Homo sapiens: one gene and its partners. The protein of the gene in region 1 interacts with the protein of each later gene in a pairwise test. Each region holds a gene or a part of one and is shown in the gene's direction. Other genes may lie near its edges.

The links. Proteins that work in one complex are often made in the same cells at the same time.
Region 2: the proteins of GMCL1 (region 1) and CHIC2 interact in binary tests that used the Homo sapiens proteins (3 or more experiments, as listed by UniProt).
Region 3: the proteins of GMCL1 (region 1) and GAGE10 interact in binary tests that used the Homo sapiens proteins (3 or more experiments, as listed by UniProt).

What each region holds. Positions count from the first base shown.
Region 1 is NC_000002.12:69,839,650-69,846,688, forward strand, and holds part of GMCL1 (germ cell-less protein-like 1), read left to right. Parts: intron 1-1,292; coding exon 1,293-1,390; intron 1,391-1,833; exon of another isoform or gene 1,834-1,903; intron 1,904-3,438; exon of another isoform or gene 3,439-3,466; coding exon of another isoform or gene 3,467-3,499; coding exon 3,500-3,612; intron 3,613-4,481; coding exon 4,482-4,547; intron 4,548-4,935; exon of another isoform or gene 4,936-5,218; intron 5,219-7,039. UniProt on the Homo sapiens protein: Possible function in spermatogenesis. Enhances the degradation of MDM2 and increases the amount of p53 probably by modulating the nucleocytoplasmic transport.
Region 2 is NC_000004.12:54,009,271-54,012,626, reverse strand, and holds the end of CHIC2 (cysteine-rich hydrophobic domain-containing protein 2), read left to right. Parts: intron 1-2,481; coding exon 2,482-2,532; 3' UTR 2,533-2,838; downstream 2,839-3,356.
Region 3 is NC_000023.11:49,299,628-49,306,663, forward strand, and holds the start of GAGE10 (G antigen 10), read left to right. Parts: upstream 1-4,018; 5' UTR 4,019-4,126; intron 4,127-5,224; 5' UTR 5,225-5,232; coding exon 5,233-5,313; intron 5,314-5,737; coding exon of another isoform or gene 5,738-5,776; coding exon 5,777-5,897; intron 5,898-7,036.

The sequences.
Region 1 (7,039 bases):
AGAAAACTCCTTTTATCACCTCAAGGTGATAATTTGATGTTGATTTACACCATAGTTTATCAGTTCTGTCCATCTTATCACTAATCTGTTTTGTCATTTGGGCCTTATCAGTTTGTTTACTTATCTTTGTAAATATGCCCACCTGGGATATGGAAGATGTAGGATGGAGGAAGGAAAAGTATGACCATTTTTTTTTTTAATTACATAGAAAATCTGATAAATAATACTGATTATTCCCTATGTATGAAGATGTTTTCTGGGAACAATAAATAAAAATATTGTTTTAGAGCTAAAAGAATCCTTAGTTGAGGAAGCTGAGGCTCAGAGGAGTTAAGGGACTTATTTTGGATCTCAGAGCAGTTTAGTGAGCCTGTGTCAGACTACAGCTCTCCTCATTCCCATTCCAGTGCTCTTGCTGCTCCCCTCATTGGTGGTCCACATGGAAGTACCTGGTGCGATACAAAGGCAAAGAAATACTTTAGTTAAGAATATTTACAGCCTGTAATCCCAGCACGTTGGGAGGCCAAGGTGGGTGGATCACAAGGTCAGGAGATCGAGACCATCCTGGCTAACATGGTGAACCCCATCTCTACTTAAAAAAATACAAAAAATTAGCCAAGCGTGGTGGCAGGCACCTGTAGTCCCAGCTATTTGGGAGGCTGAGGCAGGAGAATGGCGTGAACCCGGGAGGCAGAGCTTGCAGTGAGCCGAGATCGCGCCACTGCACTCCAGCCTGGGCGACAGAGCGAGACTCCATCTCAAAAAAAAAAAAAAGAATATTTACAAAGCAAACCATGTGGGACATTCATAACAGTGGCAGTGGAGGAAGGATGAACAGGCATAGATCACTGTGGGGGCTGGGAATGAGTGTGGCATGGACAGGACTCAGGAGCTGTACCACATTTCTCAGTGGTGGAGTGCTGAAAGCAGCCGGGTTAAGATTATCTTTGAGTCTGCGTATTTGTACTTAACGATTGGTCTACTGAGGAGTATCTTATACAACTTCTTGCAAGGCATCTTGGTTGTGACCACTGATGTCAAGATTACATGTTAGAAGAATGCAGCTAGATTTGGTAGAATAAACAGAAATTTATAACCTTGTTATTAAATTAACAGTGTCAACCAGTAACCATTACTAGCGTTTTAATTAGAGATACTTCTGTTATCCTTTTATGTGCATGCCACATTTAGACGGATGTCTTTGTGTGTGAAGACAGTCGTTGTTGTTATTTGTATAACACTTGTAATAGATATAAATATTATTTCATCCTACATGTGTACCTTGCTTTCAGCACTGCAGGTTGCATTTGGTTCACTGTATCGAGATGATGTCTTGATAAAGCCCAGTCGAGTTGTTGCCATTTTGGCAGCAGCTTGTTTGCTGCAGTTGGTAAGTATGCACGTTATTCGAAGAAAGGTTCAGAATAATAATCTTTGTCTCAAAGTGTGTACTCCAAAAACAAAAATAAAGCTTAGCTTTTTTGGAGTTTTTAAATAAAAATGAAATGTATAAATATGACATTTATTATAAATCATTTAAAATGCCTAACCAAAAGCAATTTATTACAACCGAGGGAGTCATGATGTCTGCATAAAATGAATGCAGGCCATTTCTGTGTAGATATCTTAGTATGACTATAATGTGGAAAAAACGTACTTGTCTAAGGTCATTTACAGATTTCATTAATGACTTGACTATTAAGCAGATGGCTTATGATTACCAATTAATTTCATTCATGGGTTCAAATAAACATGCATGCCTACTATTTAAATTTCTCTTAATTTTGAAAGAATTGTGTATAAATCACATATATGTATTTTAATCTACTGGCAGAATGACAGATTTGTTCATTGAAGAGAAGTGTGTTGAGCACTGTGTCAAACTAGACACAGAAAGCCAAAGGTAACTTAAGACGTAATCCTTACTTTCAAAAAGTTCACAACATAGTATGTATGTGTGGAGAGGGGAGGGAGGGTTGATATACAAACCCAAAGGTAAAGTAAGAGCTGTTCAATATTATAGGTATGATAATAAACATCCTGTAGCATTTAGTGAATGGATAAAGAAGGGAGTGGTCAGTTCATCCTGGTGGTGTCACATACGAAAGTTACATTTTCACACAGAGTCTTGAAAGTGTGTTTGTATTGCAAAGTAAGAAGAGGGGAAGGAAGAGCATTTCAGACAGAGAGAACAGAGTAAACTAAGATCTAGTGATGTGAAATAATGGAGGATTCAAGACTCTAACAGAAACATGGCTCCCACATAAACATAAGAAGGATTGCAGAAGAGGGGGGCAGAAGCCAGATCATGAAAATACATCTATACATTGCTAAGAAGTTTAGCATACACAGTACCTTTGGAATATTTTAATCAGGGGAAAGACGAAGTTATGTTTTAGAAAGAATACTTCAGTAACAATGTGACAGATGAATTGAAGGAAAGATGAGTACAGCATTAGAGACAAAAACTTGTTGCATTCGTCCAAGGGAGGAAAGTAGGGTAGTAGCAATAAGCTTGGAGGGGAAAAAGTGGATACCAGAGAGATTCAGGGATAATCCACTGGACTTGGTGATAGACTAAATGTTAAGAGGAAAGGGGAGGAGTCTAGAATGATTTCCAGGTAAGTTTAAAATCCTAATGGAGTCAATGTTTTATTTTAATCTTAAAAAATTGTTTACTTTTATGTGGTATTTTTGTACTGATTTATTTGAAGTATTAATAGCTTGCTAAATATCCTTGGTTGAGATCATTTGATTTTCAAAATGTTTTGATCCTTTCAATACTTACTTCCAATAAGTATACTTTATTATCTAACTCTGGTCCTTTTGGTTTTGTTCTAAATTCACCTTCTGCTTACTTTTATGATTTACTAACTCTTTAACTTAATATACCTGCATGATGAATGTATTTCAGAAATTTGAATGAAAAGTAGTATTCTTCCCATATATTAAAGTTAGTTCACTTAAAACCTATATAAACATTTTAGGTTAAAACTTTAATGTTAATCATTTGAAATAATAATATACTTGTTTTAAGTCTATCTCTTAGATATTGTAGTTATTTTAAACTTGATCACTTTCTGCTAATGCATACTGTTAGTTTAGTCCCATCACATGGTTAACTGACTATGTAGACTTCTTAATTTAAAAAGAAATGGCAAAACAGACAAAATGCTGCTAAAGAAATTTGCAAAGGTCTCAGACAGGGGAAGAATAGAAAAGAAAAAGAATAGCAGTATTCATTCTCTACCTTACTACTCCCCCCCACCTTCCATTTTCAAATTCCAAGTATTTAGTTGAATACTTGCTGAACTTTTTTCAGTATTTTTATTGGACTTGTTAAAAAAAAAAAAAAAAACTTAGGTTTGCTGCACTTAATGAGTTTTCTTTCTTTTCTTTCTTCTTTTTTTTTTTCTTTTACTTTTTAATATGTAAAAGCTGTCAGAGCTAATTTTTCCCACGTGAAATGGGCCTTTCCAGTGCTTATTTATATTTACAGGACGGTTTAATACAGCAGTGTGGTGAGACAATGAAGGAAACAGTTAATGTGAAAACTGTATGTGGCTATTACACATCAGCAGGGACCTATGGATTAGATTCTGTAAAGAAAAAGTGAGTTGCCTTTCTTGTTTTTCTTCCTATCCCACTTTTAGGAATTTGGTTGCTTTAGTTTCTTAAGAGAATGTATAGCTATAAGAAAGAAAGAATTAAGGAAAAATAGGATAGGGGGATGGAATTTTATTAAATAAAAAGCCCCTTTTAACTTTTGGACTAATTAGTAAATTCCTCAAAAGTGTCGTCTTTGTAAGTGACCATAGGTGGGTTATATACATGCTTATAAAAACCATGGTCACCTTGGTCGGGTGTGGTGGCTAACACCTGTAATCCCAGTGGTTTGGGAGGCCAAGGCAGAAAGATCACTTGGGCCCAGGAGATTAAGACCAGCCTGAGCAATGTAGGGAGACCCCATCTCTACAAAAAATTTTAAAAATTAGCCAGGCATGGTGGCATGCACCTGTGGTCCCCACTATTCTGGAGGCTGAGGTCAGAGGATTCTTTGAGCCCAGGAGGTTCAAGACTGCAATGAGCCGTGATCATGCCACTGCACTTTATAGTATATTTTCTATTAAAATTGTTTAAGAAGTAGGCCTGATAGACTGACAGTCCTTCTAACTCTTGAGAGTTGCAGTACCTGTTTTGAGATTTTAAAGAAGGTTATACTAGTATGCAGACCCCTTAATAAACTATTTAACACAAACTCAAAATGAAGTTTTAAAACTGGAAATGCTCTCGTTAATATAAAGGAAATATTCTCTTAATAATATCCACTGACAAAAATAATACTAAATTTCCTATTGTTAAGCTAAAAGTTTTGAGCATGTTCTGGCAAGATTAATCTGATTTTATTTTAACTATAAGTCCTACTTAATAAATTGTAAATACATGGCATATAATGTAATAATTATATATTTTAATTTCAGGTGCCTTGAATGGCTTCTAAACAATTTGATGACTCACCAGAATGTTGAACTTTTTAAAGAACTCAGGTATTTGAATTTCAAGTAACTTCATAATTAGTCATCCTAAAATATTGTTTATCATTTGTTAAAGTACATAACATTTTTGTAGAACACAAAAATATATTATGAAAAAGCAAACAATTTAATGAAAGGGCTTGACTACATCCATAAACTGAAGAAATGCTGTGCAAACTTATTTCTTTGTTGTGAATAATATAATGGATATTATGTCTACTGTTTTAACCGAAAAATGCATTACTGTTATAAGACTATAGAAAAGTTTCAGGTTTTGCCAGGCTGTTAGAGAATTTAAAAGTTATATTTTAAAAATCATCTTTTTTATTGAGAAATAAGTTTGAAGAAACTGTTTTGGCCTTTTTTTTTTTTTTTTTTTACCTTCAAAAACTTTTCATGTTGATCCGTTTTCTCACTAGGATGAATTCTCTGATGTGGAGTAACAAATGTGTGTCTCCTATAAATGTATATTTTTCCATCTCTGATTATTTCACACCTTGAATCCAAATCTGTAGTCCCAGCTACTCTGGAGGCTGAGGCAGGAGGATTGCTTAAGCCATAGAGGTCAAGGTTGCAGTGAGCTGTGATTGCGACACTGCTCTCCAGCCTCAGTGAGAGTGAGACAAGTTACCATGGTTCTTCACCGTCACCTCCTGGTACAAGGTCTTCTGAACCAGGTCAAGGTATTCCCACTCCTGATGAGAGAAGTCTGTGGCCATGTCCCTGAATGTTACAAATTCACAGGCCATGGTTTTAGACAAGCAAAAGCCAATCAGTCCTCAGGGTTTCTCTACCAGAAAAGCGATTTGGGAAAACCTAGACCTATAATCCCAGCACTTTGGGAGGCCAAGGTGGGAGGATTGCTTGAATCTAGGAGTTCGAGATCATCCTGGGCAACATAGTGACATCCCCTCTCTTTGAGAAAATATCAATCTTCCTTTAAAAAAAACCTGTTAGCGCCACACAGGGTCCCATGCAGGCTTCAGGCTGGGGCTGCAGAGGCTCCTGCAGTCAACTGCGCCGCCTTCGTCCTCAAGCGGGACCTGGTCAGACGCAGCACAGCGCAGAGCCAGAGGTCCTGGAGATGGAGCCAGAGGTCCAAGATTTCTCCATCACCTGTGGACTATGTAGTCCAAGCTGGAATAATAGGACCGCAGTCACCCGTGAGAAATGGATTCCAGGGTTCTAAAAACCTACAAGAAATATGGCGGTGACAATGAGGACTGCCCACCCTGCCCACCACCCAAGCTGCAGAGCAGCCTTTCTTTTTTAAAGAGATGGGGGCCTTGGTATGTTGCCCAGGCTAGACTCAAACTCCTGAGCTCAAGCAGTCCTCCTGCCTCAGCCTCCAAGTAGCAGGGATTATAGGCACATACCACTGCACCCAGCTTAGTTTGGCTTTTTGGATTAAGTACGCATATTATCCATTTATTCCTGCAGCAAGTACTTCCTGACTGTCCTTTATATGTAAAGATACTCTATTAGGGGCTGTGAAGAATGCAGAGATGATTTTGTCATGGTCTCTTGCTGTCAAAGAGCTTATTTGTAGTAATGGGACTAAGATATTTGTGATGGGTCTGAGAAAATCTGGCTAGCAGTTAACTTTTGAAGGCTGGTTGGCATTACAGTCATTTTCTGGCTTGCATTTCCCTGACAGCAGTGCTTCTGAGACAAGGATACAAATGTGTCCGAGAGTATGTGACATTCTGATGGAAATGTACAAAACCAAAGTCAAACATTACATAGCTTCCCAGAATGTGAATTTTACTGATTTTTTTTTTTTTTTTGGTGGGGAGGAGGTGGGGAAGAGGTAAATATTTTTATGTTTAAATACATTATGGAATAGAGGGAATTCAAATTTCCTTGAACTCTCAAGATACAATTTATAGAAATGTTACTTTTTATGGTTAGACCACCTCCTAGATTATGGGGTTTTTTTCCTTTCTTTTGCCTTTACGAGATAATTTGGTAGAGAAGTGTGAGAGACTTTCATCACCTGGTGATGTCAAGGCATAAATAAATCACCGTAGAATGTTTGATTTGAAAATCGTTAGAAACACTTTAATACAGTCAACCCTGCTTATCCATGGGTTCTCCATTTGTGGATTCTACCAACTGCCGATTGAAAAGATTTGGGGGAAAAACTATAAAAAATAATAACAAAAAAACCCAATGTAGTATGACAACTATTGCATAACATTTACATTGTATTAGGTACTGTAAGAACACCTAGAGATGATTTAAAGTATATGAGAGGATGTGCATAGGTTACATGCAAATACTATGCCATTTTATATAAGGGACTTGAGCATAGAGGATTTTGGTATTTGTAGGAGGTTCTGAAACCAATCCCCCACAGATACAGGGGGATGACTCTAATTTCTCACTGAACTTTTTGAAAAAGGAGCAGGATCCTCTTAAAAACCCACGTGCTCTCTTGGCTTTTTATGGCTCAAAGGAAAGAAAGAACAAAGGAAAAGCAAAACAAAACAAATAACTGGTGA
Region 2 (3,356 bases), on another chromosome or scaffold:
ATTTTGGGGAGAGGGATGGATAGGAGATGTAAAGAATTTAGTGAAAAAAATATTTACTACATTTATAACACAAACACTAAGCTTAAAACTGAGGTATTAATTTTTTCATGCATTTCTAAATTTACTTTGGAAAGGAAAACATAAAAGTTATCCCAATGCTATGAATTCCAGATAGAACTATATGACTATAATTTATTCATAAAATAATTTATAACCTTCCAAAACATTCTGAACTATATGCTTTGTTTGTCAAATAAGTTTCCTTGAATTTTTAGATAATTAAGCACTTCTGCTAAAGCCATTATATTATTTTCACTCCATCATAGAAGATACCCAGAAGAGTAGTAAAGATAAAATAAATATTTCAATTGCCAGGAAAAAGCTGGGTGTAGTGGGCATGCCAGTAGTCTAGCTGGGGAGGCTGAGGCAGCAGGATCACTTGCGTCTAGGAGTACAAAGACAGTTTGGGTAACATAGCAATACCCACCTCTCTTTAAAAAAAATAATAATAAGCTGGGGAGAAAAAATGTGTTCTGCTGGATTTTCTTAGAGTATATATATATATTTGTGATAGTTGAAAGTGAGAATAATGTAGCTTAAAAAATTTATAAAAATGAATTTTAAAAGTTAAACTAGCAAATAAAATTCATTTTATCTAATGAATTTGGGCCTTTTTAACCATGTGTCCCTCTTTTCTTCAACTTTTCTTTAACTTACAGGAATTTAATTTTGTTAAAAGAAAATAATTATCCTTGATTATAATTTGAACATTGGAGATACTAAAAAATATATATATATATATTCCACCTTGGCACTAACTTTTCTTTGTTCAGATATGGTAGAGATGGATGATTTAGAATAAATGAGACAAGTGGCCAGTCTCTATGTGTGGCTTCTGAAGGAAAAATTTGTAGAATATATTATTTAAAAACTAATAGTTCAAATGTAGGCAAAGATAGCCTTTATTTTATGTTATGTATTAAAAGTGTATATTATAAAGTGTGGGGATGCCCATACCTGGGGACTAAAATTATAAAGACTGATTGAGGACATACTTGAAATACAAAATTATTTATTTAATGTTGACTCCTAAGTAGTTTAAACATTTAATTGTCAAATTTTAAAGCTGCAAAGAATCTTGTTATCTAGTTCAATGCTTTTATTTTATAGATAAGAAACCTGAGAAACAGGAAAATCTAGCTCAAATGAAGAAGCTAGTTGGGAGAAAGTATTTTAACAGGGAGCTAGTGAATATTTTGTAGGCAAATCACAGGTCAGGAGAGTGGCAAATGTGACAGCTAAGCCTTAGTGCAGGATACCTAGAGTAGGACAGGAATATTTTTGAGCCAGGTATAGAAGTGTATCTTCTTTATTGAGGCAGATCAAAAGCCAGGAGAACTGAAGAGTGAAAATGAAGATTCCTGGCCCAGACAGCTAATTTGTAGAAGTATTGAAATCTGGAGGTCATATCAAGCAAGACACAGTTTCTGAAAAAGAATGATGAGTTCACTAGACTTAGAAACTTTTAAAATCAAATAATTTTTAAATCACCATCTATTTAATACAAATTTGGAGCAAAAGAAAGAGTTGACTGTAATTTAAGAAAATTCAAATTTGGAAAAATTAGCTCTGGTCACTTTGTGTAATTCTGTGTTACCATATTTTGTTTTTGTTGGTTTTCCTTTAGTTTCCTATTAAAAGGCCTTTTGGAACAAATTTTAGCCTTTAATTTTGCTAACCTAAGAAGAAATGGACTTTTTAAAAAATTAAGAGATAAAGGACCTTTTATCTAAAGATTACATATTCTGGTAGAGTAAAATGAGAGCAACTCTAGAACTTAGAGAAGACTCATGTAGTTGGGTTGATTAAAAAGGAGAAAGTCTAAAGAAAAATGTTGGGTGAGCTGCAGTCACGTAGGGTGGTATAAAGGGCAAGGCTTTGGAGTTAAGACAGTCTTTTATTCAAACAGTGACTCCACATTCAATTGTGATACAACTTCTCTGGATCATCAGTTTCCTCATCTGTGAAATAAGGATTATAATACTTGCCTCATAGAAAAGTTGTTGGGTTTAAAGAGACCCAATGTAGTATGGAACACCTGGTATACAGTTAGTTCTAAGTAAATACTAGCCTCTTTTCTCATGAGTGCAGGGGAGCGTGCATGTATGCATGTTTGCTCCTCCAGTGTATCAGGGGCACTATCTATATCACCCTTCTCAGACTTTGGTGATTTTACTTGCTTATTTGTCTTCCTTTTCATAGAGCCAAGGTATTTCGTGTATTTGGTAAAGGTCCAGAAATAAAAAGAAAAATTCTCAGTGATGGAACTCTGCATTATCAGATAAAGATCTGTTTTAGTAATGCAAAGTTGCGTTTTAAAATGTGAATGGATTTTCAAAAAAATTGTGAAAGCATATAATTGAAGTTTTAAGAAAAAATTTTGTTTAAATCTTTTAAAACCTTTTTCTTCTCCTTTTACAGGTCATCCTCATAGAATTTTTACCAAAGACACCGATTTTTCGACCAGATTAGCATTTACTTTATTTATAGAGACTTTCCAAGTATGTTGTCTTTCCAATGGTGCCTTGCTTGGTGCTCTCCTGGTGGTGACATAACATTGGTTCTACAGAATCGTGTGGTGTTTTTTTTGTTTTTGTTTTTGTTTTTTTTTTAAATAACCGCATGTTCTAAGTGTGCATTTTTGTCAATCTTTGCAACAGTTATTTCATACAGATGTTTAATACTTAAGTTATTGTGCTCTTTTCTGTTATGTATTCTGATTTTCAAGGATTACTTTTTTGTATTATCAAAAAAATACATTTGAACTTAGCATAAAAAGTGGCCAGCCTTTTTTATTTTGTCACCAAGGTACACACAGTCCTTTATTTATAAATTCCTTAACAGAGAAAAACACCTTTGTAAGGCTCAACTTACCTATTCCAGCAAGCACACTTTTTCTGTCATTTTTTCTTTCTTTTCAAATTTGATATTGTCATTATTTTAAAATAGTAAGTTTTCTTTAATAGTCTTTTGGGACCTAACATACCCTTTCTCATACAATTCCTAATGCTCTGTTTATGGCAGATAATCTGTAATGTTATGAAGACCTATCAAAAAGTTTTAAAAGTATTTCTGTCTTCAAAGGTAGTAAGACAGGATTAAATTTTTATTAGAATAGACAAATCAGTGAATGGTATGCATGTATCTAGTGGTTACTAGAACTCAGGATCACACAATATAGTAGCATCACGATCTGTGTATATTTTTGATCAAGATGATAATAATGGCCTTACTTGGGTTTTTATCGTTTATCAAATCTTACATACAAAAGAGTGGAAGTATTCCTTTACAAAATT
Region 3 (7,036 bases), on another chromosome or scaffold:
GTGCTCTGTCCCAGAAAGATGGGAGTTTTATCTATAAGCCCCTGCCTGGGGCTGCTGCCTTTCTTTCAGAGATGCCCTTCCCAGAGAGGTGGAATCTAGAGAGGCAGTCTGGCTACAGCGGGTTTGCCAAGCGGCCGTGGGCTCTGCCCAGTTTGAACTTCCCGGAGGCTTTGTTCATAATGTGAGGGGAAAACTGCCTACTCAAGCCTCAGTAATGACAAACGCCCCTCCCCCCACCAAGCTTGAGCATCCCAGGTCAACTTCAGACTGCTGTGCTGGCAGTGAGAATTTCAAGTCAGTGGATCTTAGTTTGCTGGGCTCCGTGGTGGTGGGACCTGCTCAGCTAGACCACATGGCTCCCTGGCTTTAGCCCCCTTTCCAGTGGAGTGAACGGTTCTGTCTTGCTGGCATTCCAGGCACCACTGGGGTATGAAAAACAACTCCTGCAGCAAGCTCCATATCTGCCCAAACGGTTGCCCAGTTTTGTGTTTGAAACCTAGGGCCCTGGTGGCATAGGCACAGGAGGGAATCTCCTGGTCTGTGGGTTGAGAAGACCATGGGAAAAGCATAGTATCTGGGCCTGGATGCACCGTTCATCACAGCACAGTTCCTCATAACTTCCCTTGGCTAGGGGAAGGAGTTCCCCGACCCCTACTGCTTCCCCGGTAAGGCAGTGCCCCACTCTACTTCGGCTTGCCTTCCATGGGCTGCACCCACTGTCTAATGAGTCCCAGTGAGATGAGCCGGGTACCTCAGCTGGAAATGCAGAAATCACCCACCTTCTGCCTTGATCTCACTGGGAGCTGCAGACCAGAGGTATTACTATTTGGCCATCTTGCTATTGCTGCTGTTTTTTTTTTTTTTTTTTTTTTTTTTTTTTAAGACAGAGTCTCACTCTGTCACCCAGGCGGGAGTGCAGTGGTACAACTTCAGCTCACTGCACCCTCTGACTCCCAGGCTCAAGCGATCATCCCATCTCAGCCTCTTGAGTAGCTGGAACTATAGGCACAAGCCACCGTGGCCCGATTAATTTTGTTTTTTTGATATAAGTTTTGTAGAGATGAGGTCTCACTATGTTGCCCAGGATGGGATTCTCTGGCTCTTAATAAATAATTGCTTTTTAAATCTTTCACAAAGGAAACCTTGAGTGAGTGAATAATCAAAAGGTGATAGATTGTTTAGTTTCTATTTTCTGTGGCATGAAGGTCAGTGATGCTCAGGATGGGTGTGAGTAAGATGCTTGTGCTAAGCATGCTCCCTGCCCCACAGTCAGTCTGCATGAGCCACTGTTTCTAATAAGACTGTGGATAGAGTGATATAATCACCTCTAACCATATCAAATGTTACACGTAAGTTTCAGATTTTGAGACATGAGTTGATAAGATTTGAAGTTCAAAGACCATGACTTTAGTACTTCCTGAGTAATCAACTGAAATATGTTTTACATATGTGTTTTCCAAATTGCTGACCATTCATTATAAGTGCTTCTGAATTTAAAGGAGGTACTTGATGTATAGGTAAGAAATTACCTTTAAATTCTGGAGGTCTACCCTCAAAGTGTATACAGAGGTTTAATTGGATGTAAGACACAGGATCACCTTTAGGGTTCTGTTTTTTTGTCTATTTAATAAAACCCAAACTGTAGTATGCTTTACATGCCTTTAGAATCATATAAATAAACTGCTGTTAAGTAATGTTCCCAGTTGTTATGTTTCTGTTACAGGTGAAAAGCAATCACGGAGTTAAAAGAAGACAAGCTGAAATGATGCAGGCTGCTCCTATGTTGGAAATTTGTTCATTAAAATTCTCCCAATAAAGCTTTACAGCCTTCTGCAAAGTAGTCTTGCGCATCTTTTGTGAATTTTATTTCTAGCTTTCTGATGCTGTGAAATATGTATCATTCTTTGAAATTTTATATTCTAACTGTTTCAGCTGGTATGCAGAGACATCATTCCTTTTTTTTTTTTCTTTTTTTCTCTTTCCAGACAGAGTCTCACTCTGTTGCTTAGGCTAGAGTGCAGTGGTGTGATCTCTGCTCACTGCAACCCCCGCCTCCTGGATGCAAGCAATTTCTGCCTCAGCCTCCCGAGTAGCTGGGATTACAGGAGCCCACCACCTACCCAGCCAGATTTTGTATTTTTAGTAGAGACGGGGTTTCGCCATCTTGGCCGGGGTGCTCTTGAACTCCTGACCTCGTGATCCACCCACCTCGGCCTCCCAAAGTGTTGGGATTACAGGCGTGAGCCACCGCGCCCGGGCGAGACATAATTCTTATATATTGATTTTCTATCCAGCAGCCTTGTGAAATATGCTTATGAATTCTAAAAGTTTACTTCTAGATGGTTTTCAGTCTTCAACATACAGAATCATACCATCCTTGAATAAGAACAATTTTGTTTCTGCCATTTTTTTTTTCTTTTTCCTTTTGTATTTTTTGTAGAGACGGGGTTTTGCCATGTTTCCCGGGCTGTTCTTGAACTTTTGAGTGCAAGTGATGCACCCGCCTCACCTCCCACAGTGCTGAGATTACTGACGTGGGCCACCGTGCCGGGCCTGTTGTTGCCATTGTAAAGAGTTTTATTTCCTTTTCTGATTTTATGGCATTGTGCAGACCCACCTGTTAAAATGGTGACAGTCAATATCCTTGTCTTATCCCTGATGAGAAACCGAAAAATTTCAACATTTCACCATCCTATTTACTGTCCTTTTTTTGTAGATGGACTTTATCAGAGTAAGTCATTCCATTCTGTTCCAAATTTGCTGAGAGTATTCATTTGAATATATGTTGAGTTTCATCAGTGCATCTATTTTGTTTATAACAGCATTTTTTTCCCATTCATCTGTTAATGTAGTGAATTAGATTGATAACTTTGTACATTTTTATCTTCTATTTTTAAAAATCGAGACAGGGTCTCATTCTATCACCCAGGCTGGAGTGCAGTGGTGTTATCAGAGCTCACTGCATCCTTGACCTTCTTGGCTCAAGTGATCCTCCCACCTCAGGCTTCTAAGTAGCTGTGACTATAGGTACATGTAACCATTCCCAGCTAATTTTTCTTCTTCTTTTTTTTTTTTTTTGTAGTGATGAGATTTTCTCATGTTGCTTAGGCTGGTCTCGAACACCTGAGCTCAGGCAATCTGCCCAGCTCAGCCTCCAAAAATACTAGTACTACAGGCATGAGTCTTGGCCTGGCCAGTTTTTCTTATACAAGGGTCTTCTCTATGTAAAGACTAAACTTATCTGTATCTTTGTGAGGGTGTGCTAAGGGCATGATGAAATTTATCATTCTATTGATTTAAAGAAAACTATCCTTGACTTTCCAGTGTGTAAGTCCATGAAAGCATAATTATGTTGAAAGCATATATTGTTATGGGTGTTGAGAACCCTGCACTTTCTGCTGCTGTGGGAGCATGTCCTTGGAGGTACCTTTCGTCTGTTTTCTCAACTCCAAACATCTTAGGACCATGGGTTGTGACTGGTAAGGAATGTGTCTTGCGAGTTTCAAGATGGAGTTGATTTTCACATGGTGTCACTCTGGCTCTCCTGTTTCTCTAATACTGGCACTTCTCTTTCTGTGATTCTGATGCTACAAATGATAGATATCGTTTTAGTATTTTCTTATGGGTCCTAGAGATTGTATTCATTTTTCTTTCAGTCTCTTTCTCTGACTTGTTCACATTTAACAATTTCTTTTTGGGGTAGGTTGCTATTTCTGTTTTCGCAGGTGGTTTACCTGTCTTCTCAGGCAGTCACCGTGGTCCTTGTCCCCATGGTGGGGCCGGGGCAAGAGAGGGCCCTGGAGGGGAGGGGGGTTTAGTTGAAGATGGAGTGAGTTTTGAGGGGAGCACTACTTGAGTCCCAGAGGCATAGGAAACAGCAGAGGGAGGTCAGATTCCATTATCCTCAGTGGGGATGGGAATCGAGGGTTGGGGGCGTGGGGCTGGGAACGGCAGCCTTCCCCAACCCGCAGCTGTACATGCTCCTTGGCTCCCGCCTCAGTGCGCATGTCCACTGGGCGTCTTCTGCTCAGCCGCTTTACCCACGTGGAGAACGCCAGGGAGCTGTGAGGGTGTGTGGTCTCGTTCCTGTCGTCTGGAATATTTTTCCTCTACTGAGATTCATCTGGTAGGTCTGCAGGCCAGTCCTCCCGGGGTCTGAAGTGTGAGTGAGGGTGAAGAGCAGGCAGTGTGCTTCGGGTGAGTCCGTTGGGTCCTGCTTCGTGGTCTGTGGCCTCTGAGGGAGAAGGGCCTCGAGGCTTCTGAAAGGGAAGGGGCTCCTGGCCTCTGAAAGAGAAGGGCCTTGAGGTCGTCCTCCTTCTCTCAAAGGCTGTGAGGCCACCATCTGCTTTGTGGTCGTGAAGGGGCCAGGACAAGGAGGAAGGTGGGCCATGGAGGGGAGGCGGTCAGGGGCTCAGGTGAAGAAGGGGCGATTGCTGGGTGTGCTGTCAGAGGGATGGAAGTCCGGAGGTGCCAGGAATACCCGATACAGGGGAGATCCCTGAATGAGGTCCCGGACAGGTGCGAGGAGGGCGATAAAGAAGGGACCTGGCACCTGGGAAGACTGCGGGCTGGTGAGTGCCCCTGAGCTTTGTGGAGTGGGGAGCCCCGAGTGAGAAGCATCGCAAGATCTCACCTCCGCCATGGAAGGTCTGGCAACAGTGGGAAGGACTGGGAGAGGCTGTGCGGTCCAATCAAACTTGATTTGAGAGAAGTGAATGGCTCTAGTAAGTGGGAGTGTGCCCAAAGTAGCAATCACGAGAATTATGATTCACTAATGTTTTCATGTGGAGTCCACTTGTGAAACTAAACCTCATCAGAAATGACCTCTGCCAGTGGGGCGCCATGGCCTGCGCCTGTAGTCCCAGTTACTCGGGACGCTGAGGTGGGAGGATCCCTTGAGCAGGAGGTCGATGCTGCAGTGAGCTGTGATCACGCCGCTGCACTCTGCCAGAGCAACACAGGGAGACTGCGGGACCAAAAGAAATTTAGAAAAAAAATGTCCTCTGCGTTTTGTCACACGCCTTAAGATGATTGCTCTGCCAGCTTGGCCAGCATAAGTGGCTTTGTAGGCACTCAGAAAAGGTACACACATATGCTTAACTCTGGGACTTATTTTGAAAGTATTTTCAAAATTAAAACGACAAGTTAACATTTATCCATGGAGGTGATCGAATATAGCAGCCCTGTGGAGCGCACGTTCCCAATCACGGTTGTCTGTTTTCAGTGTGAAATATGAGTTGGCGAGGAAGATCGACCTATCGGCCTAGACCAAGACGCTACGTAGAGCCCCCTGAAATGATTGGGCCTATGCTGGTGAGTGCTTAAACGTTAATTCGTTGTTTTCTATTAGCAGAAATTAATTTTTGTGACAGTATTGTTGCATTAGTATGGAAATGCTGATAAAGGTCTTTCCTGCTCATAAAAAATGATGATGGCGTCTCATGAAGGAAACATTGATTCTGGAGAATTTTTTTTCCTCTAGTGTTCTTCAGCTTTTGCCCATGACTTCTTTCTCAGGCTTTGTTTGTTAATGACAGATTGTACACATGTATTCCAACACTGAGTATAATAGCCTCCAAAGTCCTCGTGCGTCACTTTTCTCATAGTAACCTTCCTGTGGGTCGAGTAACCTTATTGGGCATAGAGCATAGAGTTGGAGAAATGTCTTTAGGCTTAGTTAGGACCAGAAATAGCTATGTATTCTGTGTATATATGTAAAATTTTGTATCAATAACGAAACTTATTTTTTATTTGCACACCCACACGTATTCCCCAGCCCGAGCAGTTCAGTGATGAAGTGGAACCAGCAACACCTGAAGAAGGGGAACCAGCAACTCAACGTCAGGATCCTGCAGCTGCTCAGGAGGGAGAGGATGAGGGAGCATCTGCAGGTCAAGGTGAGGGAAAGGGAAGAAGAACGTCTGCTGGTGTGTGCGTGTGTGTGTGTTCGTGTGTGTGTGTGTGCACGTGTGTGTGTGTGTGTGTTAGGCATTGTCACATAGGAGGAAGAGGAGGAAAGAAAACAATGGAAAGAATGCCTGAAATTGACTGGAAAAGCGAGGAGGCTATGTAGTTTGCAGCTTAGCTTAGGCAAATCCCTCACTATGATAAAAGTTCTCATCTTTATGAATGAGAAAATGGAGGCGCTGGGATTGTGTTTTATCCAAGAGCCCTTGACTGGTGAATACAAAATTTGTATTTTGTTCCAAGGTTTGTGTCTTCCTACCATCTATGTTGCTGTAAAAACGGAAATGATTTTGCTGAAAATGCTTAAAACTCAAAGGCTTTACTGTAAGGTAGCTTAGTACTGACCCAAGAATAGACCCAGTTCAGAGGAGCAGGAGCAGCTCCAAAAACCGAGTCACTGAATGTCAGCCACTGTTTCCTTTGATTGATGTTTTTATATGGTACATTTGATAAAAGCTGGATAAATGAGGATACTGCCATACAGGTAGCTGGTTTAGTTATTTTCTAAGTGGCTTTTAGGAGGTGATTAAATCCTTTTATGGTTAGAAAAAGCAAAAAAGGAATTATCCTGAGATTAACATTGAGATAGAAATAATTTCTCCTAGATAAAATATTTTCAAACAAAACATTTATGTAACTGAGGTCATGGATTATTCCAGGGATGCACTGTTAAAAATTTCTAGAATCTGACTGACAACAATGCCCATTAATTGCTGTCCTCCCACTCCCTTATTCTCAGTGTGGGACAGTATATTTTCTGTGATTCACAAACAATGTTATATTTGGTGCTTTGTTCTTCACGGGGTTCATTTATGGAATATTACATTTAGGACCTTTGGACCTAAATATAACTTTATTTGAACAAAATGAAGTTTCTATTTACCTCAATAAGTAATGGGTGTCATGACTGTAAGATTTTCCATAGTCCTCAAATCCATTCAGCTAATCGATCCTTCAGAAATTGACATTGTAATTGTAACCGAAATCCTATCCATGTGGTAGACTTGAGATTTCTTAGCTGATGCACACTGCTCTCGGTACTCTATGGCTGAATATAAGCATTATACAT